Regions from separate parts of the Homo sapiens genome. Here regions 1 and 2 are each linked to region 3. The links come from fine-mapping of genetic effects on gene expression. A gene starts in region 3. Each other region holds a variant in brackets. All regions are shown on one strand. Distances are from middle to middle.

What was found. PIP is the estimated chance that this variant, and not a neighbour inherited with it, causes the effect.
Region 1: its variant is fine-mapped to the expression of TMEM80 in monocytes (CEDAR, PIP 0.95).
Region 2: its variant is fine-mapped to the expression of TMEM80 in Th1/17 cells (Schmiedel 2018, PIP 0.95).

The regions. Positions count from the first base shown.
Region 1 is chr11:421,259-427,377 of GRCh38, forward strand. The region is part of intron 15 of ANO9 (anoctamin 9); the gene reads right to left. Among named protein-coding and RNA genes, the nearest start is that of SIGIRR, 9.3 kb to the left of the region's middle. RefSeq lists an enhancer at 1-473. The variant T/TCACACACA (reference allele first, on the strand shown) is at 2,627.
Region 2 is chr11:339,330-345,626 of GRCh38, forward strand. No RefSeq gene overlaps it. Among named protein-coding and RNA genes, the nearest start is that of IFITM3, 22 kb to the left of the region's middle. The variant T/C (reference allele first, on the strand shown) is at 3,531.
Region 3 is chr11:692,225-698,521 of GRCh38, forward strand. It overlaps TMEM80 (transmembrane protein 80), which reads left to right and starts at 3,592. Exons shown (of 5, transcript NM_001042463.3): 1 at 3,592-3,622. The coding sequence starts at 3,604. It overlaps DEAF1 (DEAF1 transcription factor), which reads right to left and starts at 2,998. Exons shown (of 12, transcript NM_021008.4): 1 at 2,535-2,998. The coding sequence starts at 2,823. RefSeq lists silencers at 2,370-2,619, 2,640-2,759, 2,770-3,069, 3,570-3,989 and enhancers at 2,435-2,974, 2,975-3,516, 3,517-4,056, 4,597-5,136.

The sequences.
Region 1 (6,119 bases), 270 kb before region 3:
TGCAGCAGGACAGAAGCGGGTAGGAAAGACACAGAACAGGCGGGGCAGGCCCTGCAGGTGAGCGGGGCACAGGTGCTCACACCCAGATGAACCGCACCCGCACGTGGGCACGCACACACACACACACACACACAGGGGAGGCCACAGGCTCCCAGATGAACCGCACCCACACGTGGGCGCGCGCACACACACACACACCCCCACACAGGGGAGGCCACAGGCTCCCAGACGAACCGCACCTGCACGTGGGCGCACACACACCCACACACACACAGGGGAGGCCACAGGCTCCCAGATGAACCGCACCCACACGTGGGCGCGCGCACACACACACACACCCCCACACAGGGGAGGCCACAGGCTCCCAGACGAACCGCACCTGCACGTGGGCGCACACACACACACACAGGCAAGGCCACAGGCTCCAACACACGCTCCAGACAGTGTCTGTTACGAGTGGCCTCGGTTTCTCCCCGTGGAAACGGCACGATGGGTTATTTTGTGTTTAAAATCACCTGCTTTCCATAATATGAGAAATACATGAACTATCTTAAACCAAAAGTCAGGCTCATGGTCAGTGGTGAAATCCCAAAAGCATTCCTATTGTAGCTCACGACAACTGGTATTTAACACGGTTCTGGAATTCCTTGCAAATAAGCAAGAGAAATATGAAGTATAAATAGTATACATTTGCAAAGAAAAAAATGACTCTTTTAGAAAACATGATTATGTACCTGGAAAATCAAAATAAAACAACTGAAAGCCTGGGTGGATAAATCAATCGAGTGCTCAAGTGGATACAAAACGAGCATCCAGCAGAACTGGCTTTTCCGTGTGCGGCAAAGCTGCGGGGAAACATGGCATGAGAAAGTATCGGTCACCCGCAGACACCAGCACAAGTTATACCATAACGAGACTGAAACTCACAAGGCATCTGTGGGGCCTAAATGAAGAAAACTATAAAACTACCAAGGAGCATGAAAGACTTGCAGGGAGAACCTCGTTCTCCCATAAGAAAACGGAGGATGTATTTGTAGTCAGAGCGATGGGCCGCAAAGACGTCCACGTGCTCATTCTTGGAGCCTGTGACCACGTTCTTACCTGGCAAAGGAATTTTATCTCACAAGGCAGATGGTATTAAGGCTGCTAATCAGCTGACTTTAAGACGGGGAGATTATCTTGGGTTATCTGGGTTTTTCTGGTGTAATCACAAGGGTCCCTCTGTGGGGACAGGGAGCAGCTGGGAGCTGGCCTGACTCAGAAGGAATCAGAAGGACTCAGGACTCACTCAGAAGGACTCAGCCCCACGCTGCAAGCTCTGCAGGGGGAGGAGCAGCCGTGCACCAAGGAGAAGCTGAAAGTGAATTATCCCCTGGAGCCTCCAGAAGGAGCCCAGCCCTGCTAACCCCTTAGTTTTCACCCAGTGGGACTCATCTAGGACTTGTGGCCTGCAGAACTGGGAGGTAATAATTTGATTGTTTGAAGCCACTAAGCTGTGGTCGTTTGTTATGGTGATTTTCTTGGAAATAATGTATCATTTTACTTATACAATCTTAAGCCAAGTCCCACAGAATTTTTTTTTTTTTTTTCAGACAGAGTCTTGCTCTGTCACCCAGGCTGGAGTGCAATGGCATGATCTTGGCTCACTACAACCTCCACCTTCCGGGTTTAAGTGATTCTCCTGCCTCAGCCTCCTGAGTAGCTGGGATTACAGGTGCGCGCCACCACGCCTGGCTAATTTTTGTATATTTAGTAAAGACGGGGTTTCACCATGCTGGCCAGGCTGGTCTCGAACTCCTGACCTCATGATCCGCCCACCTCGGCCTCCCAAAGTGCTGGGATTACAGGCGTGAGCCACCACACCCAGCTAGTCTCACAGAATTTTTGGCAATTTGACAAAATGATTCTGACATTCATCTGAAAGAATAAACATATGTAAATAACCATTAAAAAAGTAGAAAAGAAGAGTGATGGACAGCAGCTAGCCCCACCCTACAGCAAGGCATAAAGCAATAATACCCAGCACAGCAAGGGGCTGGTACTGGAATTGTCAGAATCCATGAGAAGACAATATATAAGCAAAGAATGGAATTTGGTGTATGACGAAGAAGGCATTTCAAGTTAAGAATGGTGATGGGGATGGTTAGTCAATCAATGGTTTGGGGACAACTGGGTGCCATTTGGAAAACAAACAAACAGCCTTCCTTCCTCTGCCCCTTGCAGCAAAACAAATTCCTTACAAGTCAGGGATTTGAAGGTTTAAGGGTTTTTGTGACAGGATCTCTGTCACTCGGGCTGGAGTGCAATGGTGAGATTATGGCTCACTATAGCCTCCACCTCCCAGGCTCCAGCGATCCTCCTACCTCAGCCTCCCAAGTAGCTAGGACTACAGGCCCAAACCACCACGCCCAACTAATTTTCTATTTTTTGTAGAGACGTGCGGTGGGGGGTTTGGGGGCAGTGGGTCTCACTACATTGCCCAGGCTGGTCTTGAACTCCCAGCCTCAAGTAATCCTCCTACCTTGGCCTCCCAAAATGCTGGGATTACAAGCATGAGCCACTGCACTCAGCCAAATGTTTAATATTTTGAAATCATAAACATCTAAAGGAAATCACAGTTGAATAC[T/TCACACACA]CACACACACACACACACACACACACACACACACACACATTTGAGATGGAGCCTCACTCTGTCACCCAGGCTGGAGCGCAATGGTGCGATTTCAGTTCACTGCAACCTCTGCCTCCTGGGTTCAAGTGATTCTTGTGCCTCAGCCTCCCGAGTAGCTGGGACTACAGGCTCACACCACCACGCCTGGCTAGTAGAGACGGGGTTTCTTCATGTTGGCCAGTCTGGTCTTGAACTCCTGACCTCAGGTGATCTGCCTGCCTCAGCCTCCCAAAGTGCTGGGATTTCAGGCATAAGCCACTGCACCTGGCCCACAGTTGAACATATTTATTAATCTTGAGGAGTGGCATGAAAAAATAGAACCATAAAGGAATACTGTCAAAAAGAAAATTTGCTCTAGTGTAACATGAGAAACCAGGTAGATTTTTCACGCTGTTTTCCGAGAGACCTCCCCATGCAAAGAGGCACAGAACTAAGCTCTAGAGCCAGACTTTGTGGTTTTTATCTGTTCCGCCACCCACTGGCTGTGTGTCCTGGAGATAATTTCTTAACCTCTCTGGTCCTCAGTCATCTATTCTGTAAAATGGCAATGAGAGAAGCTCTGCCCTATAGGGCTACTGTGCAGATTAAATGAGTTAATGATAGAATGTGTGAGTGGGCAATGGATGTAGCTACTATTATACAGACCCATCTCATCCATCAAGAAAAATCAATTCAGTTCCTTGGTCTTTAATACGAATGAATAACCACAGAGATTTACTCACAGAGGAGTAAGAGGAGAATAACGATTAAAAAACAAAAATGGACCCTTTAGGAAACAAGAGATAATTAGGGAACAGATGAGAACTCAGGGAGAAGGAAAACCTAATTGAAATCCTCAAGAACATAAAAACACGGAAGGGATGCTGTGAATAAAAAATAAAGAGGAAACAAAACACTCTTAGAAATTAAGACTTTAATTGTTAAACGTAAAACAAAGAAATCAATCGATGGAGAAAAAGGCACAAAGTGAAGGAAATCTCTCCAGATGTTACAAGGAGGAGACATGGACACGGGACGCGCGGGAGGAAAAGGCGGCGCGGAGACGGGACGCGCGGGAGGAAAAGGCGGCGGGGAGACGGGACGCGCGGGAGGAAAAGGCGGCGTGGAGAGACGGGACGCGCGGGAGGAAAAGGCGGCGTGGAGAGACGGGACGCGCGGGAGGAAAAGGCGGCGTGGAGAGACGGGACGCGCGGGAGGAAAAGGCGGCGTGGAGAGACGGGACGCGCGGGAGGAAAAGGCGGCGTGGAGAGACGGGACGCGCGGGAGGAAAAGGCGGCGTGGAGCGACGGGACGCGCGGGAGGAAAAGGCGGCGTGGAGAGACGGGACGCGCGGGAGCAAAAGGCGGCGTGGAGAGACGGGACGCGCGGGAGGAAAAGGCTCCCAAGGAAGATCTCTGGAAGAAAAGGGACTCCGTGCAATACACGATGTACCACAGAGAGGCTGGATACAATTGATAAAGACATTCAAGAAAAAGAGGCAAGTAGAAACCCCAGGAGATGGATTGGAAGGCAGACAAAATCAAAAACAACAAAAGATAAAGAAACTCCAGGAAAAACAAAGAGCTGTACAATAAATGTTACAAATATGATGCAAAGTAAAACATACCATGATTATAAGAAACTGACAGTTAAAAAAAAAAAAAAGCAAGCAAGAAAGAAGCCTGGCCTTCATGCTACGATAACCTAACAAAAATGCTCCGATAATATGAACAGTCAATTCATAGGAAAAAAAATACAATGATCAGTAAATATCTGGAAAGATGCTAGACTTCACCAATAGTTTTTTGTTTTTTGTTTTTTGTTTGTTTGTTTGTTTTGTTTTTTTTGAGACGGAGTCTCACTCTGTCGCCCAGGCTGGAGTGCAGTGGCGCGATCTCAGCTCACTGCAGGCTCTGCCTCCCGGGTTCACACCATTCTGCCTCAGCCTCCCCAGTAGCTGGGACTACAGGTGCCCGCCACCACGCCCGGCTAATTTTTTGTATTTTTTTTTAGTAGAGATGGGGTTTCACCGTGTTAGCCAGGATACTCTCAATCTCTTGACCTCATGATCCTCGTGCCTCGGCCTCCCAAAGTGCTGAGATGACAGGCGTGAGCCACCTCGCCCAGCCCCTCACCAGTAGTTTTTTAAAGGCACTTTTAAAAAATGAAAAGACTTTGCCCATCAGCTCAAGATGGAACATATAGTTTCACACACTGTGGGTAGCTTTGTCACTGACACAGCCTTTCTGGAGGTCTCTTTAGCAGGATCTATGTTAATGTAAATGCAAACTCCCAAGTCACAATTAAAATGGCGACTGCAGGTGCAGTGGGTCACACCTGTCATCCCAGCACGTGGGGACACCAAGGCAGGAGGATTGCTTGAGACTGCAGGTGCGGTAGCTCACACCTGTTATCCCGTAGCACGTTGGGAGGCCGAGGCAGGAGGATTGCTTGAGCCCAGGAGTTCGAGACAAGCCTGGGCAACATGGCAAAACCCCATCTCTACAAAAAATAGAAAAAATTAGCCAGGCATGGTGGCACATGCCTGTAGTCCCAGCTATTCGGGAGGCTGAGGCAGGAGGATTGCTGGAACCAGGAGTTTGAGGCTGTAGTGAGCTGTAATGGTACCACTGTACTCCAGCCTGGGGCAATGGATCAAGATACTGTCTCTAAAAGTAAATAAATAAAAATAAAATGACAGGCTGCTGACACCCACTACCAGGCATCACCTTAGAGGTGTAAGGGAATTGGAGAGGCCTGAAGTCCACTCAAGACATCAGGCTTTCGGGGGAGACACTCAGGAAGCAACCCAGCCCTGCCAGGATCCCCAGGAAGCCTCGGGACTTGGGTACCCCTGGTGGCTTGGGGGCACTGATTAGGGGAATGCAGGCCCAGCTGGAAGGTCCCTGGGCTTCCTACCTGACCACAAAACCCCCTCAGGAGGACTAGAAGCTCACTAGGGGTTTGAACAACCAGGGACTCAGCACACAGGGTTGGACCAATTGACACTGAGGCCCCACACTGTCCTCCCCAACCCCAGCTGGCCTCCCAGCACATAGACAGCGTCCTTCTGCCTCCAGACAGGAGACCAGGGTTCACCCGCAGGAGCTTCCAGAGTGAGAGGTCCCACCAGGAGAGACGTGGCCCACAGCAAGCCATGGTGCACGCCTTTCCCAAGACGGATGGGGGTCAAGAACCAGCATCTACAGGGCCAGACGTGGTGGCTCACCTGAGGTCAGGAGCTCGAGACCAGCCTGGCCAACATGGTGAAACCCTTTCTCTACAAAAAATACAAAAATTAGCTGGGTGTGGTGGTGCGCACCTGTGGTCCCAGCCACTCAGGAGGCTGAGGCAGGAGAATTGCTTGAACCCAGGAAGCAGAGGTTGTAGCGAGCCAAGATCATGCTACTGCACTCCAGCCTGGGCGACAGAGCGAGACTCCATCTCAAAAAAAAAGTAAAGCTGCAGCCAGCAT
Region 2 (6,297 bases), 350 kb before region 3:
TCCCCTGCCTCAGCCTCCCGAGTAGCTGGGACTACAGGTGTCCACCACCATGCTCAGCTAATTTTTGTATTTTTAGTAGAGATGGGGTTTCACCATGTTGGCCAGGATGGTCTCAATCTCTTGACCTCGTGATCCACCCACCTCAGCCTCCCAAAGTGCTATGATTACAGGCGTGAGCTACCACACCCAGCCCAGCTAATTTTTATTTTTGGTAGAGATGGGCTGGTCTGGAACTCTTGGCTCAAGTGATCCTCCCACCTCAGCCTCCCAAAGTGTTGGGATTACAAGCATGAGCCACCACACCAGCTATTAACCTTGGTTTCTAGTGAAAACTAGCAAGTAAACACTTGTCAACTTTTTGCATACATACCAACATTCTGCAGATTGGCAAATCTGTGAATATACCATGTCATAATTTCTAGAAGTGTGTGTTTCTTTATCATACAATTTTTCAATATGGCACAGGATGTGTTTGCTGGCAGAGACAAGTATGTTTAGTACTTCTATAATAAGAAGCCAAAAGTAGACAAGCTTATGTTTAGCAATCAAAGTTTCAGTATTTTATGTTATTCAAAAAAAATAAGGTTTAAAAAATATCTTTCTAGATAGTCGATGAATAACCATCATTTAATTTAACTTGACTCTAACAGTGCAAGCTACCAAAGAGAATCGGCAAGCTGCTTTTAAGTAGATGTTTCATAACAGCAGACAAGGCTAGACATCATCAAATTGCTTTTCTTGGTGGCAACTCTTGTAACAGAGATAACATAAGTTTTTGCCTAATAAACCTAGGTAAAACCAAAGTTGTGTGTCTGCGTTTTATTTAATGCTGACAACTCTAAATATTTCATTAAACCAGAAAAGTTTAAATAGCATTTATTTACCAACTATAATCTCAGATGACATGAAATTTAAAAAACATTTGGGTTAGTTTCTATATTTCTAAGAGTTTAAGGATAACTCAACTTATATAAGCTCATATTTTTCTTTAAGCCAATTAAATACCACTTTTTTATAAATTAATTTTGGCAACGCAATCTAGAGTAGGAAAATGTCACGTGTACATGTATACATAGACATACATAAACATACAGACAGAAGCAGATCATATAGCTTTCTTTTTTTTTTTCACACTCTTCAGACACTAGAGTGTTACAGCTTCATTCTAAAATCTTAGCCACATGCCAAGCACAGTAATACAAAACACACTGTTTAATACAAGAACAATAGGCTTCAAATCTTGTTTCTGGCACATGGAACAAGTCAAAATTACTTGCCAGATGATTAAAGCTTTTATTAATATTTGCGGGAAAGACTTAAGGTTTTTCATTTGCCCAATTTCCATATAGCTCTTTTTTTTTCTTTTCTCATAAGATGGCTTCCCAAAATTTGCATATCAAAGAGATAACCCTCAGGTGTTTGAGCAGAGTAGAAAATTTACATCTCAAAGGCACAGAACTTAGACTTCAGCCTTAAATATCTTCATTTGAAGAAGAGAAAAAAAGAAAGAAATGAAAAAAAGAAAGAGAAAGAGAAAAGAAAGAAAGGAAGAGAAAAAAAGAGAAGGAGAAAGAAGGAAGGAAGGAAGGAAGGGGAAGGGATGGGAAGGGAAGGGAAGGAAAGGAAAGAAAGAAAAAAGCAAGCAAGCAAGAACAAGGAAAGAAAGAAGGAAGGAAGGGAGGGAAGGGAAGGGAAGGGAAGGAAAGAAGAAAGAAAAAAGCAAGAACAAGGAAAGAAGGAAGGAAGGAAAGAAAGAAAAAAGAAAGAAAGAAAAAGAAAAGGAAGGAAGGAAAAGGAAAGAGGAGGAAGGAGGGAAGGAAGAAAGGAAGGAAAGGGAAGGGAAGAAGGAAGGAATGAGAAAGAAAGGAAGGAAGGAAAAGGAAAGGAAAGAAAAGAAAAGAAAAAAGAGAGAGAAAGCAAGCAAAGCGCTAATTAAGCCAAGATGGGGGTCAGAAATGCACGCTAAGTAAAGGTAAGTTTTGTGATGTAGATTTAAATCAATGCTTTCTCCATTCTTTTTTTTTGTTGTTTACTTTGTTTTGTTTTGTTTTGTTTTGAGACAGAGTCTTATTTTACAACCCGGCTGGAGTGCAGTGGTGCGATCATAGCTCACTGCAACCTCAAACTGTTGGTTAAATTTCTTTGTAAAGATGGGGTGAGAGGGTTTGGATTTGTGTCCCCACCCAAATCTCATGTCAAATTGTAATCCTCAGTGTTGGAGGAGGAGCCTGGTGGGAGGTGATTGGATCATGGGGGCAGACTTACCCCTTGCTGTTCTCAGGATAGTGAGTTCTCATGAGATCTGGTTGTTTAAAAGTGTGTGGCACCTCCCCCTTCTGTCTCTTCCTCCTGCTCCAGCCATGCAAGACGTGCCCCCTTCCTCTTCACCTTCTGCCATGATTGTAACTTTCCTGAGGCCTCCCCAGCCATGTGTCCTCTTTTCTTTTGCCTTTTTTTTTTTTGAGACACAGTCTTGCTGTGTCACCCAGGCTGGAGTGCAGTGGCGCGATCTCAGCTCACTACAACGTCCACCTCCCAGACTGAAGCAATTGTCCTGCCTTAGCCAGCTGAGTAGCTGGGATTACAGGTGCACGCCACCATACCTGGCTAATTTTTGTATTTTTAGTAGAGATGGGGTTTCACCATGTTGGCCAGGCTGGTCTCAAACTCCTGACCTCAACCTGCCTCAGCCTCCCAAAGTGCTGTGATTAAGGCATGAGCCACCACACCCAGCCTAAACCTCTTTTCTGTATAAATTACCCAGACTCAGATAGTTCTTTACAGCAATGAGAGAAGGGACTAATACACCGACTCTTACTATGTCACCCAGGCTGGTCTTGAACTCCTGGGCTCAAGCAACCCTCCTCCCTCAGCCTCCCAAAGTGCTGGCATTATAGGCATGAGCCACCACTTCTATCTCCTTTATAGAATTAAATTTTTCTTACAAAGGGTCTCAAAAGAATTGGATCAAAATAATCTTTATGCCAGAGTAGCACATTTGGGGCCTACGTTGGCTAGATCAGAGGCTTCTCAGCCCAGTTTATGCTTTTTAACTCCATCACTGAGTTCAGGGTGGCGCCTACTGATGAACTGGCAAGCATTTTCCATGCCTGGAGTTAGCATGAATAGGCCAGGATATAATTCTACATCATCAGCAAATTTCTGGGACAGGGAAACCTTTCACTATTGTTCTGAGCTCAGATTTTAATCAAGATGTCAATGTGGTTAAAGAAGGAAGGCCTGGTTGATCTAAAGGCCTAACACGATGAAAGTTTGGCTAACTTTCTTTTTGCCTCTGGGGTATAAAAGTTACTGAGCAAAAAAGTGAGTAGTTCAGAGCAATCTGGCAGAGCAAGATGGAGAGAAAGAGAGAAGGGCTCATCTGTGCTGAGTCAGTAGACATGCCCTTTTTCATTGTCAATTAACTGCTTTGGTTTTCTATTTGCCTTTTTCTATGGAGTCTTTTAGAGAGACAACTTGGGATTCATTTAGTCTTTTAGCAGCCTGTGCATGCCAATCAAAAAATCATC[T/C]GGGCATGGAGGTTCTCGCCTGTAATCCCAGCACTTTGGGAGGCTGAGGCAGATGGATCACTTGAGCTCAGGAGTTCGAGACCAGCCCGGCAACATGGCGAAAACCCATCTCTACTAAAAATACAAAAAATTAGCTGGGCTTGGTGGTGCATGCCTGTAGTCCCAGCTACTCAGGAGGCTGAGGCAGGAGAATCACTTGAACCCAGGAGGTGGAGGTTGCAGTGAGCCGAGATCACACTACTGCACTCCAGCCTGGGTGACAGAGTGAGACTCTGTGTCAAAAACAACATGTGAATTAAAAAATGCATTCCATTTTCTCTTAGTTGCTTTGGATCCCATCTTTTGCAGTGGATACCACAGATGAACAGCTTTGTCTAGGTCATCACTTACCCACTGCGGCCACCACTTAATTCTAAGGTGTCTTTGGTAAAGTTCACCAGTTTCTCTAGACAAGTACTGGTTCTCAGGTGGAGGAATCTCAGACTCTGTGGATTCAGATAAACTCATTATTCTGTCTTCCCAAACCCTTACCTATGTGAAGATGCCTACTAGGCCCAGTTCAGTTTCTGATAGATCCAGTTTGACGCTAGATCTAGTCTGGATTTTTTTTTTTTTTTTTGAGACTGAGTATCACTCTGTCGCCCAGGCTGGAGTGCAATGGCACGATCTCGGCTCACTGCAACCTCCGCCCCCCGAGTTCAAGCGATTCTCCTGCTTCAGCCTCCCGAGCAGCTGGGATTACAGGCACCTGCCACCACACCTGGCTAATTTTTGTAGTTTTAGTAGAGACAGGGTTTCACCATCTTGGCCAGGCTGGTCTTGAACTCCTGACCTCGTGATCTGCCCACCTCAGCCTCCCAAAGTGCTGGGATTACAGGCATGAGCCACTGTGCTTGGCCCTGGAATTTTTTTTTTTCTTTAATGCTCAAATAAAGTTGGAGATCTTAGGATGAAAGTTGTGGAACTTGCATGAAGTAGAAAAATTAGGCCAGGCACGGTGGCTGACGCCTGTAATCCCAGCACTTTGGGAGGCCAAGACGGGCAGATCACCAGGTCAGGAGATCGAGAACATCCTGGCTAACACAGTGAAACCCTGTCTCTACTAAAAATACAAAAAAATTAGCTGGGCGTGGTGGCAGGCGCCTGTAGTCCCAGCTACTCGGGAGGCTGAGGCACGAGAATGGCGTGAACCCGGGAGGCAGGGCTTGCAGTGAGCCAAGATCGCACCACTGCACTCCAGCCTGGGCAACAGAGTGAGACTCCGTCTCAAAAAAAAAAAAAAAGGCAACTGCCTTCTTTGTCTGGTGCTCAGACTTTCAGGACGCATGTCTGCTGAGCCGGTGTACACCTTAAATAAACTCTCCTTCACCCCGTTCCATCTCTCCAGCTTCCCGATTTCCTGCAACAGCATCCAGGAGGGATCTACTGGTGGGGATTCCACATCAGCAGCAAGAAAGCAGTGAGTACAGAGGCTCCACAGGCGTCCACACCAGATTCTTCATTGCTGCCAGGTGTCTTTATGGCCAGGAGGAGACTCTTCCAGGTCTCCCTTCTGACACCTGAACTGCTAAAAAGATAAACAGACACATTAAAAAATTTTAGGGTCTATTTTAGCAAACAGCAATTCATGAATTGGGCAGCTCCAAACTGCAAGTCATTCAGGGCTCCCGGAAAACATTTACAAGGTACACATGGAAGCAAAATTTATAAAAAAAAATTGGGCCCGGCGCGGGGGCTCATGCCTGTAATCCCAGCACTTTGGGAGGTCGAGGCGGGCGGATCACGAGGTCAGGAGATCGAGACCATCCTGGCTAACACAGTGAAACCCCGTCTCTACAAAAAACACACACACAAAAAAAATAGCCGGGTGTGGTGGTGGGCGCCTGTAGTCCCAGCTACTCAGGAGGCTGAGGCAGGAGAATGGCGTGAACCCGGGAGGCAGAGGTTGCAGTGAGCCAAGATCGTGCCACTGCACTCCAGCCTGGGTGACAGAGCAAGACTCTGTCTCAAACAAACAAACAAACAAATAAACAAAAAATTGATTGGTTAAATTAAAGCAGTAGCTTCAAAGTCCTTAGTTTGAAGCTGCGTTTTCATGGTATCTAATGATTGTGTCTAGTTTGAAGTCATGTTAGGATCCAGCCATTCATGCTGAGTTGGGTTTCAGTTACCTTATCTAAGAACTCAGGGCACTGGGAGCGTCCTCAATCTAATGGCCTCCCAATTAATTATTTCAACATAATTTTCTGAGAAATCGGGTATCAATCTAATTCCTGTTTCATTGTAGGAGACCTATTTTTTCTTTCTGGAACTTTCTCTTTCTGGAACTTTTTCTTTGATACTCTTCAGTTTCACTGTGGTACATGAAAATGTAGGTTATTTCTTATCTCACCTCTTTGCAGCCTTTCGGTCTGAAGCCCTTCATCTTTCCTCAATTCTGGGAATGTTAGCTGTATTATTTATTCGGGTATTTCTTTCTCCCACTGCTTTTGGCTCCCCCTTCTAGAACATGGAATAGTGACAGGTATGCACCCCTCTCTCTTTCCCTCCTCTCAGCTCCGTGTTGCATGTGCCCTTTCTTTATTCTTCCACGATAATTCCTAGCACCATTCTCAACGGAGCTGGCGACGCAATGTCCACTCTTCAGTTGGGTCCATTGCCTTTTTATAATTCTGGCCGTCATAATACTATAAAAGCCAGCACTCCTTCTATCACAATCTGTTCGGTGGGGGAAAGGCTGTCACTTTCTTTCTTTCTTTTTTTTTTT
Region 3 (6,297 bases):
CAGCATCTGCACACAGGGCAGTTACCACAGAGGTCAGCTGCACCCCACCTCCTGCCCCTGTCATCCCAGATAGGTCCTGCAGCTCCAGCCTCTACATGCTGGAGTGTTTCTAGAGAAACACTTTCTGCCGCCAACACCCCCACACCCTCCTCTCTGCCTCTGCAAAGTCTTCCTGTGATGCTCCTAGGCCAAGCAAGTGGCTCTTCTGTCACCCAGAGTTCTAGAATGTCCTGTGTCCAGGGCAATCTCTGGCACACAGCAGATGCTTAAAAGATACTGGTTGAATGAGTCCTGACCATACCATTAACCCAGCACTCACCAAACTGCCCTAAAAATGCCTGTTTGCAGCCGGGCGCGGTGGCTCACGCCTGTAATCCCAGCACTGTGGGATGCCAAGGCGGGCGGATCACCTGAGGTCAGGAGTTCGAGACCAGCCTGACCAACATAGAGAAACCCCATCTCTACTAAAAATACAAAATTAGCCGGGCGTGGTGGCACATGCCTGTAATCCCAGCTACTCGGGAGGCTGAGGCAGGAGAATCACTTGAACCCGGGAGGCGGGAGGTTGCGGTGAGCTGAGATCACACCATTGCACTCCAGCCTGGGCAACAAGAGCGAAACTCCGTCTCAAAAAAAAAAAAAGGCATGTTTGCTGTCTGTCTCCACGACCAGACCACACCAGGTGCACGGTTCCCTCATCCTCGCCTCTCAGCACCACAAGCCCCGGCATGCGGCGCGCGGCCACAGTGAGTGCTCAACGCCAGGCCCATGGCAGCCCTGGGAGCAGCCGCCCAAAGCCTCCTCAGGCGGCAGCGTGTCCTGCTGAGTTACTTAAACCTGGAAACCACTTGACGTCAGCTGTTCGTAATTTTTAAAAAGTATTAAAGTGCTTTTACCACATCAAAACACAACTACCATATTTTTCAGAAGAAAACACACGTCAGCACATTTCTCTGACATCATGATGAACAGCATCATTTTTCTTTTATGCATTCAGAAAAATACGTGCAAAAATGACAAAAACCTGAAATCAACCTCATGGCTCCAAATCCCAACGTCAAACCAGAGTTTAGCGACGGACGCCAACCCCTGAGAGTCACAAAGCCTTCCCTCACTTTTTTTTCTTAACCAACCAAACAAGCAGCAGTGACCCCTTTGCCTTCGAGGGCCACTCAGCTGACCAAGGGCAGCCCAGACGCTGCTGGCCCCCACCCAGCCCCCAGGCCGAACAAGCACCCAGAGCACACGCAATGCCCTGACATACCCAGCACACCAGGACTGGGATCCAGTTCCTCAACCCGCAAAGCTCCGTAGGGGAAAAGTGCCTCACAACGCAACAAGAAGCTCCTCCCAAGGGTCTCAACACTGAGCTGTGAGTCCCTGGGGGACACTCGGGAACTCCAATGGGGAAGAATACAGTGCGTTAGGAAGCCAGTGGGTGGGGAAGTCTATGCCCCACGGACACAAGGGCGGGACACAGGAGGTGGGTGGACGGCACCAGCCCCGTAGGGCATCTGTGAGCTCTGCCACGGGCTCCCAGTGTTTTGGAGCCTGAGAAGGAGACTGACCTGTGTGGCAAGAAACTATAAGCAGCTTATATAAAAATGTGGACTGGAAAGCCACAGCAGCCTCCCCAAAGGAAGCCCGACAGGAAGCGGGGCAGGAGGAGCAGGTCCTTAGGGAAAAAGGCAAGAGGAAGAGGGAGGACTGGGAGGGGAGCCTGCACAGGTGGCTCCGCAGCCCCCCTGGGCCACCACACAGCCACGCTGACCTCTGGCATCATGGCCTCCAGCAGGCTGCCCACCCCTGGCTCCCCAGCGCTCAGGTCATGCCTGAACTGGCCCTCAGGAAGTGGGGGGTTCCTGGTGACCACAGGTGCCCACCCACCCCAGGGCTTCTCCAGGACAGGTGGGGGGAGCCAGGATGGACGAAGGCAGGGCAGGGGCAGAGCTGCACAGGGGGGACCAGTAGGAGGCGGGGCTGCCACAAAGAAAAGGGGGGCAGGGGGCAGGTGTGTGCAGGGCAGGGCCAGGTCAGGTGAGGCTAGGCAGGTCACCAGGGGCAGGTGTGCGGGGCAGGTGTTTGGGGTAGGTGGGGCAGGCTGGTCACCTGGGGCAGGTATGTGGGGCAGGTGTGCGGGGCAGGTAGGGCAGGCCGATCACGTGGGGCAGGTGGGGAAGGCTGGAAACGTCGAGCAGGTGTGCGAGGCAGGTATTTGTGGCAGGTGGGGCAGGCTGGTCACCTGGAGCAGGTACGTGGGGAAAGTGTGAGGGGCGGGTGGGGCAGGTGTGAGAGGCAGATGTGAGGGGTGAGCTAGTCACGTGGGGCAGGTGTGCAGGGCGGGTGGGGCGGGCGGGTCACGTGGAGCAGGTGTGAGGGGCAGGTGTGCAGGGCGGGTGGAGCGGGCTGGTCACGTGGAGCAGGTGTGAGGGACAGGTGTGGCGGGCTGGTCACCTGGGACAGTTGTGCGGGGCAGGCGCGCGGGGTAGGCGCGCGGGAACCGGACGAGGCGAGAGGCCGGCGGGCGCACTTGCCTGCGAAGGCTGCGGCAGCGGCGGCCTCGTCGGGGCCGGGCAGGGCCTCGGCGCCCATGTCCATGTGCCCGGGCTCCGCCGCCATCACCGCCACTGCCGTGACCCGCGGCGTCTCCCGCTCCGCCTCCGAGTCTGCGTCCTCCTCCGAGTCCTCGTCCCTGCTCAGCACCGGCTCCTCCGCCTCGCCTCCTGCCGCGGCCGCGGCCGCCGCCGCCACAGCGGCCGCGGCCGCCACCGCCGCCGCCTCAGCCAGGCCCAGCTGCTTTGCCGCCGAGTCCGAGTCCTCCATCCGGACTCCGCCGAGCCTTCCCGAAGGCGCCGTCCGGGACCGCCCGAAGCGCCGGTCGCGGAGCCCGAAGCGGGGCCCGAAGAGGACGCCCGAGCTGGGCCGAGGCCGCCCGAAGCCGCCGCCCGAATAGGGACCGAAAAGGCAGCCAGCCGCCGAGCAGAGCCGAGCCGAGTCCGCCCGCGGAGCGGAGCCGAGGCGAACAGAGGCTGCCCGAGTAGGAGCCGAACCTGCACGAAGCCGCCGAGCCGAGACCGAGTCCTGAACCGAGGAGGGTCGAAGTTCCCCGAAGTGGGAAGCCGAATCAGTCCGAATAGGTCCGAGTCCTCACGAGGGCTTCCGAGAGACTCGGCCCCTGCTCTCCTCACTGTCCTGACAGGCTGAGGCGGCTGTCGTCCCCGGCCGACAGGGCTGGACGGCTCTAGGCAGATTCTCGCCGGCGGCCGGCGCAATTCTGCCTCTCAGAGAGAGCTTAGTGCCGCGGGTTTCGCCCGTTCCCGCCGCCGGCGGAAGCCGAGTCAGCCCGAGGCCGAGCCGAGACGAGCCGAATGTCCCCGAGGCCGAATGCTCCCGAACGTCGGTTCTCCACCTCTTCCCTTCCGAAAGTGCCCGAGCGGTGCCGGACGGACTAATCGGGCCTCGGCCGTGGCTCGGACGTCCGCTCCCGAAACGCGGCGCGGTCGGGCCCCTTCGTCAGGAGACGCGAAAATGGCCGAAGGAGCGCGAGCGCGCGGGCCGAGAGGCTGCCGGGATCGCGACGGACCGGCGGGCGGGGCGGGTAAGATGGCGGCCCCGCGGCGAGGTGAGCTCGGGCGGGGTGGGGGCTTCCGGGCTTGCAGCGGCGGGCGCGGCGTTTCCCTGTGGTGACAATCCGGTTTCCGCTTTCGGTGCGCTCACGGGGCCGTGCCACCGTCTCTACGTGAGCGAGACAGCTCCGTCACCCCATCGAGAAGCGCGGCCTGGCCTGGCCTGGGTGGCGGGCGTCCTGCACCCCGAAGAGCTCCCCCGCGCGCGGGCGCCTGGCCCCGGGCAGGGTGGGTGCGGAGCGGCTCTGGGGGCCCCAGTCCCCGGCAGCTCTTGTCCCGCGCGTGGTTTTTGTGAAGACACGTGGGCGGGATGGGCGCAGGGTTTCGGTAGCCTTGGAACTCTCGCCAAAGAAAATCGCGGGCGCCGGTGCCTCAGCCGTCCTGCCTGAGAGACTCGCCTCCGAGAGGAGGAAGGGACAGACCAAAGCAGTAAATCGGCCATCCTGCAGAGGAGCCGCCTTCTGCTGTCTGTGGGTACAGCCAGAACTCCCATACGCGGGCGCTGAAGTGCCAAACCTTCGTGCGTGTTCTCTAGTAATTAGGTGCATTGTTTTGAAGGAATAAAGAATGGCTACTCCATAGGCAGGACAGCCTCTAGTAACCAGGTTTGTTTTGTGTATTTTCATTTGGTTAAAAATTAAGTTTAGGTTGGGCGCAGTGGCTCAGGCCTGTAAGCCTGACAGTTTGGGAAGCCGAGGCTGCAGGATCATTTGAGGCCAGCCTGGGCAACATAGCAAGACCCCCTCTATAAAAAAAAAACTGTAAACATCAGCCAGGCGGTGGCGCACCCCTGTGGGCCAAGCTATTCTGGAGGCTGAGGCTGGCGGATCACTTGAGCCCAGGAGGTCGAGGTTGCAGTGAGCCGTGATGGCGCCACTGCACTCCAGCCTGGGCGACAGAGCGAGACCCCCTTCTACAAAAAAAAAATTAAAAATTACCCCGGGGAAGGCCAGGCGCAGTAGCTCACGCCTGTAATCCCAGCACTTTGGGAGGCCAAAGCGGGCGGATCACCTGAGGTCGAGGGTTCAAGACCAGCCTGACCAACATGGAGAAACCCCGTCTCTACTAAAAATACAAAATTAGCCTGGCGTGATGGTGCATGCCTGTAATCCCAGCTACTTGAGAGTCTGAGGCAGGAGAATTGCTCGAACCCGGTGGTGGTGGTGGGGGGGGTGGGGTGCGGAGGTTGCAGTTGGCCAAGATCGCACCATTGCACTGCAGCCTGGGCAACAAGAGCGAAATTCTGTCTCAAAAAAAAAAAAAATTACCTCAGGGAGCCTGTGGTCCCAGCTACGTGGGAGGCTGAGGCTGGCGGATCACTGGAGCCCAGGAGGTTGAGACTGCAGTGAGCTGTGATCAGGCCACTGCACTCCAGCCTGGGCAACAGAGCAAAACCCTGTCTCTAAAAAAACTAAGTGTATACCAAAACAAGATTTCTTAACACATCTTGTCCATTACATCAGGGAAAACACTTGTTCTCTTTCACTTCCATGTTTAACTTCTGCCTGACACAGCTATTCGTAGCCACATTGTGATTATAGTAAGTCACTGACAAAAAATGTTGTCCTGAAAGCCAAGGCTACGTTCGGTCAGAATGAGCTCCTGCAGGTCTGGAATTGTTAGAACAGCGTATCTGGTTATAGCCGCCCTTCATATTAATTATTAAAATGTTACATCACTTAAGGCTTTTATACAGTTTTTCCCCCAAGCCCCATAACTTCAATCTATAACAGTGAGCAACTAGCAGACACATTGGAAGTGTTTAAGAAGCCAGCCTTTAAGAAAAGGAACAGAAGGGACAAAAACCCCAATTAATGCGAAATCATCACAGATAATGACAGGTATTTAGGTGGCCTGGTTTAGCTAAGGCCTGGAAAAGAACAGATCGGGTTTAAAGAGTGGCCTGCCGGGAACGCGATGCGGCGTGGTCTGCCGTGCACTTGGCTTCCTGCTTCCATCCTGTGGTGCCTCTTCCAGGAGCCCAGTTCTGAGTCTCTGATGCCGATGTCCTGTATTTACTGGCTTAAAACTCTTGCCTGTGTGAGATTCCACAAACTCTGGCACAGAAGGCCCCAGATCTGCCCAAGAAGCTGTGGGATCAGCCACAAAATCTCACCAACGCCAGGTTTCTGTCCTGCCCTCCCTGGCGCTGAAGGGGAAATAGAACAGAGGCTGTGTTCAGGTTGCTGTCCTGCCTGCCGCCCAGCGGTGCAGCTTGAGCCTCCTTTTATGAGAGGTTTCCACCCAATTCTAGATGTGTATTGAGGTATCTACACATGGAGGGACGTGCACATATCACACGTGCAACTGGCCTGAGCCCTTTTCAGACAATTAGTCCGCTCCAGGTCAGCGTGGATCCAGGGTGAGTCAGAGGCGTCTTCAGATGCAAAACCTCAGAATCAAAAAGGAGGAAAGAGACTCCACTCACTCCTCGGGCTTCCTGTCATCTCTCAGGTGGGGGTGGGAGAAGGCCCAAGAGGTTGCATGATAAAAAGACTGGACAGCTGCATTGCTGGTTTGGAAAATCCTTATTTTTGGAGGGATATTTGGGGATAAAATTTCAGAGGAAAGCAAATGTCTCATCAATCATGAAAAAAGATTTGTTACAACCTAAGTCAGAAAAGGTTTTCATCTAGTCATATATGTGTGGCAAATACGGAGAAGCCACAGA